Regions from separate parts of the Homo sapiens genome. Here region 2 is linked to region 1. Evidence: fine-mapped expression QTL. A gene starts in region 1. The other region holds a variant in brackets. All regions are shown on one strand. Distances are between the middles of the regions.

The links.
Region 2: its variant is fine-mapped to the expression of NUDCD3 in whole blood (INTERVAL, PIP 0.96).

The regions. Positions count from the first base shown.
Region 1 is chr7:44,489,277-44,492,190 of GRCh38, forward strand. NUDCD3 (NudC domain containing 3) reads right to left here and starts at 1,382. Exons shown (of 6, transcript NM_015332.4): 1 at 1,133-1,382. The coding sequence starts at 1,324. RefSeq lists a silencer at 964-1,133.
Region 2 is chr7:44,440,405-44,443,318 of GRCh38, forward strand. All of the region lies in intron 2 of NUDCD3 (NudC domain containing 3), which reads right to left. Among named protein-coding and RNA genes, the nearest start is that of NUDCD3, 49 kb to the right of the region's middle. The variant G/A (reference allele first, on the strand shown) is at 1,364.

The sequences.
Region 1 (2,914 bases):
ACTAAGATGGCACTTATGCCACTGACAAGGACGAGGAATAGCCTTAAGTTCTGAAATTGAATCCTAATGGAACCCCATTCCTCGTTTGGCCCTATTACCCTGGTAGCTACCAAGACATTCAAAGCTTTGGCTTCTGCTGAGGAAAGTAACATCTTACCAACCTGCAGCATGCATTAAGACTTCAGGAGGAAACATCTGAAGCATTTTATAAACTGTAACATCTAGAGAACTGAGGGAGGTATCATCAGCATTTCTATCTTCTTGGGTTTCTACAAATAGGCTTAATACTTGGCTGAATAGTTTCTTTTAATCTCATCAGAAGTCCCACCTCTCTTATAAAAACTTCACTTCTCAACCATCATTTCTATTTCCTTTCTTTACAATGGGCTCCATCAAATAATTGCCCTTAAAAAGTTTTCTATTACTTTCTGGGTTTTCTCTCTTTAACTGTGTCACAAGGAGAGAGAAACCATTACTTAAACACCCGTATCACCCTCACCTGCGGCAACTAAGAGTGTAAACTACATTCAGCAAAAGGTTGCTTACCACTACATTCAAAAGTGCCCAGTCAACTTCACTGAATGAGTATTGACAGCGTTTCCAACATACAATAAACTTAACCTGGAGGGTACGGAATTAAGCTCAAATAGAAATTTTAATAAGCACTACATTGACAGTCTTTGACCTGGGAAGTCACATTTCAAACAAGCGACCACACCCATTGATCAACACAATGCCTCCGTCATCCCCGCCAGCTCAAGTCTTTGGTAGTTCTGGGGCATGCACGTTTCTGTTGCTGTAAATGTCCTTCCTTCTGTCTGGCCTGCATGGATTTCGCTCCCTGACTAGCGGCCCCCAGCACCGTGAGGGGTACGCGCTGGCGGGTGCTGAGTAGGGCTCTTAACAGTCGGCTTACTACTTCTGAAACCTCAGGACGTCCGGAGCGAACACCTCAGCGGAATAAGCTGACATCCAATCCGCGCTTCAAATTACTGAAGCCATTCTCACAAGCTCAACCCCAGGACACCAGGAAAAGGAGGAAACAGGCTGGGAGAGCTTGGAGGAGCGGGCGCCAGGAGTCAGGGCAGGCCGGGGGCGGCGGCTCCCCAGACCGCAGGCCCGCCCGCCTCACCTGCAGCACCAAGGCCTGCGCGGCCCCGGGCGGGAAGCCCATGCGGTCCGATGGGTGGCGCAGCAAGCGATAGAAGTCTGTCTTGCGGTAGAGGAAGCCAAAGAGAACGCGCAGGAAATCCTGGACGTTGCCCACGTGCTGCAGGATGCCCAAAAGGGCCTGGTCATACAGCTCGGCCGCCCCTGTCTCCATGTCGCCTCCCGCCCTAGGTACGCTTCACACACACAGCGCCGCCTCAGACCTGCCGACTGGCCACTTCCGGCGTCCGCAGCCAACGGCTCCGCCGGACGGCGCGGCTGCGGAACTTCCGGTCCGTGCTCGTTCGGCCCCCGCGGCCCCGGGCTGTTTTCCCCAGACCCAGCTGCCCCACGGGCTTTGCCTTGAGGTGGTCTTAGACAAAAGAGCCCGACAAGGGCAGCAAGGAGGTTCCTACGCGGAAGGAAGCCCGTGGCTTCTGCTGCGCTGCGAGGGCTTGACCGCCATGTTTGAAGCGGGCGGAAAAAAATTATGGGGCGTGCAGTGTCACGTGACTGCTCGGATTTTTGTCACGTTGTCTGTGGATCCTTTCTTATTTCTGTGTTGAATTCCAGCCTGGGTATTTGGAACCTATGGTTAAAGATGGGGCTAGGGTAAGCTTTTTGTTAGTGAGCCAGAGACGGGAAAATGCGTATATGTGGGATGTATGGGTTTCTTATTAACAGATCTGTGAGTTAAACTCAGGGCGTTGCATCAGAAGAAAGTCAAGATGACGAAGAAAATAAAGAGTGCATTCAACGTATATTAAGTGGAAAGAGCTAGATTCAGAATAGAGAATCCGTATGCCATCGTTGTGAAATATGTACGTGTATGTGTGTGTATAGTATGTATATACATATATACGTCATATATACATATGTTGTTAGTGTCTGTCAAAGTATAATCTTAAAAAAGTAAAAAGCATGACACTCATACAAATATATCATGAACACATATCCAAGATTTCTTCAGCAAATTAACAATGATATGGTAAAGCTGGTTCAAAAGCATTTTGAGGAAGTGGAGATTAAACATTTTGACAAAGCATTAGAGTAAGATTAGGTTGGATACAAAGCTGGCTGGTGTTCTACAAGATGATAAAACCATAGATTATCATTTCTAGTGTATAGAAATGATTTGCACCTCTTCTAGATTAAAACATGCAAGTTAACATGTCTTCATAGTGTATAAGCTTTAATGAATTGTAAATAAAATCCAACTCAGGTAAATTGCCCTAGAACAGTGGTTCTGAAACTCTTGATTTAGGGACCATTAATCCTCTTAAAATTTGTTGAACATTCCAAAGAACATTTGTTGATATGGGTTATGCTTATCAATATTTACCACATTAGAAATTAAAACATAAAATGTTTAAATATTTATTTAATCATTTTTAAATGACCATAAAACACATTACATGTTAACATACTTTTATGCAAAAAATAATGTTCTTCAAAGCAATAAAAGTTCAGTGAGAGGAGTAACATAGTTTTACATTTTTGCAAATCTCTTTAATGAGCCTACTAGAAGACAGCAAGATTTGGCCGGCACAGTAGCTCATGCTTGTAATCCCAGCACTTTGGGAGGCCGAGGCGGGAGGATCAGGAGTTCGAGACCAGCCTGGCCAACACAGTGAAACCCTGTCTCTACTAAAAATACGAAAATTAGCTAGGCGTGATGGCAGGTGCCTGTAATCCCAGCTCCTCTGGAGGCTGAGGCAGGAGAATCGCTTGAACCCGGGAGGCAGAGGTTGCAGTGAGCCGAGAT
Region 2 (2,914 bases), 49 kb before region 1:
ACGAGAACATAATGCCTAAATGCAAGGTGACTCCTGGACCTAATTCTGGAATAGAAAAGGGACACTAACTAGTGAGAAAACCAGAAAAATTGAAAAAAAAAAAAAAAAAAAAGCCTGTGATCATTATTACTAACTTGACACAGGATTTTTTTTTTTCGATTTTTCTGGTTTTAGTTAGTTTTCACAAATATATCATGCCAACTAACACTCAAAGAGAGGGAAAGGGGAGGAGGTTTAAGTCTGCAGCTGTGACAATTCAGACCATGGGGTTGAAGCCAGCCCATAGTTTGAATCCTGGGCTTCAGCTCATACTAGGTGTGTTATCTGAGCAAATTCCTCTATCTCATTAAAGCCTCAATTTCCTCATCTATAAAATGGGAACAATAATGATCCCAATTCTTAGCCTGTTGTGAGACTCATAAGCTCTTACCTAGTCTTCTTGCATGTGAGCTCTCTCTCTCACCAACATGAGGCTATTAGTAATACCTGAGTTAACAGTTTCCTTCCCTTGATACTGAATCACAGTCCTAAGCAAAAAGGTTTAGCACCCATTTTCAACTCAAGATGACAGTATTTTTCTCTTTTTCCTCCTTTTCTTCCCATCTCCCATATTCCCACAGTCCCACCAACTTTGAAAAGCAAATAAAAGCACTTTTCTCTCCATAATTTCCCTGCTGGGTGCCACTATTCACAGCACTTGATATAGCAAATTCTGGCAATGCTTTCCCATTTGATTTATCTAGAAGGTTGTTATTTACTGCTCCTGCTGTTTTGGGGGCGAAAATGTTAGTGGTCTACCAAGAGGACTTTCCAAAAATAACAAGACGTGTTTTCACAACAGTCAGTATGTGGAGGGCACTGTCATGTTGGTTTCTTAGCTTTACTCATAGCATGACAACACTGGATTTTTAGGGATTCTTAGACTAAACTACTTTGATATGACTAGTGAGGTTATCTTTTGTTTTCTTGAAGATATTATATCCTGGGAGGACTTTCAGTACCAAGAACCACCCAGTCTTCCAGGGAGAAATGAATTCCACATTGTCCAATTTTGCTCCCGCCAACAATAGCACCAATTTATTCTGCCTGGAGTATGGAAGCATCAGAAACCCTACATACAGCCCAGTCAAAGACTCGCCATGTCTACCCGCCCTGCCCAGCCTCTGTTCAGTCTCTGGACTCTCTGTGCCACCCTCGCAGCTAGGACTACCCACACTTGGATCCCAGGCTTCAGGTCAGGGCTCCATAGCTAGCCCACACATCAGAGCCGGCCCCACCTGCCACTCAAAGAGTACTGGCCCAGGTAACCTTACTGTTGTAGGTCCCAGGACACAGATGGGAACAACGTGGGACTTACAAACTT[G/A]GAGTTAATCAAAAGTGATTAAGTGGCTCTCAGAGCCTCTGGTCAACAGAGAAGGCCCCTGGGAGGAGCTGGACATTCACACAGAACTCTGATAAATGGCAAGACAGGGCCAGCTATGAAGACCACAGAGATGAGCAGCCTAGACAGTGTCCCACACAAACTCCTTGATCCACAGCCACAGCACTGGCTCAGGGCTCATCTTTGCCTCCAACTCACTGTGCCCTTGGGTTCATATCTCCATTTTCACATTTATAAAACTTACAAAATGGGAGCACATGAGTACCTTCCTCAAAGATGTTCCTGGGGTTAATGAGTGAATAGATACAATGCTCAGAACAGTGTACGACTCAGAGTAAGTGTTAGCTGCAGTCATCACTGTCACCATCATTAATATTTTTACTGATGTAGATTATTAATACAAATAATATTGTTATCATCAAAGAGGAGAAGCTATCTTACTAGCCAAGATCAGCATAGGGCTTTTTAAAACAGAGTTCAGAATTTAATTAAAAAGTGATTGCAAATCACTGCAAGGTTGGGACAGGGAACAATGTTATTTGGTTGTTTTAAAAGGTCAATGCACAGCTGCCACATGGAGAGTAGACTGCAGAATGCCAAAAGAAGTAGTTCCAGGGGCTGTTTGGGGGCACCAGCATGGAGACTGCAGGCAAGCCTGAGGGTGTAAGCACATGCAGGAGAGTATGCACCTGGGGGACCCAGGGCAGGGCCAAGGACACTCAGGCTGAATCACTTCAGCCCCACGAGGGCTGAAGATGGGAGGGGACAAGTGACAAGATGGAGGCTCACCTCGCCTCATTCATCTTCTGTCTCAGCTCACTCATTGAATTACTTTCCTCTTACCCTCAAGTCTTTAACAAAATTGAACTTCCTCCCTAACTACAAGAGGGGCGGACTCTCCCCTTTTCTTTTTTTTTTTTTTTTTTTTGAGACAGAGTCTCACTCTTTGGCCCAGGCCGGACTGCAGTGGCGCTATCGCGGCTCACTGCAAGCTCCGCCTCCCGGGTTCACGCCATTCTCCTGCCTCAGCCTCCCGAGTAGCTGGGACTACAGGCGCCCACCACTGCGCCTGGCTAAATTTTTTTTCTTTCTATTTTTAGTAGAGAAGGGGTTTCACCGTATTAGCCAGGATGGTCTCGATCTCCTGACCTCGTGATCCACCCACCTTGGCCTCCCAAAGTGCTGGGATTACAGGGGTGAGCCACCGCACCTGGCCTCCCCTTTTCTTTATAGCACCTTCATACTTAACACCATGACATCAAATGACAACGTATTCACACAGAAAGCAGGCATTTTGTTTACTGGTTTATTTATGTTTACTTATGCAACCAAGAGAACCTATATGGCTGTCATGGGAGCCCTACCTTCTAGAAAGAGAACAACCACATCCAGCACAGTTTCTAACACACTCTGCATACAGGTGGGATGAGCTTTGAACACATTCAATATAAAAAAAAAAAGAACAGGTAACAGGTACAATGAGACTGCATGCTAATCTTAAAGAAGACATTCCACAACTTGTTACCTTTAAAT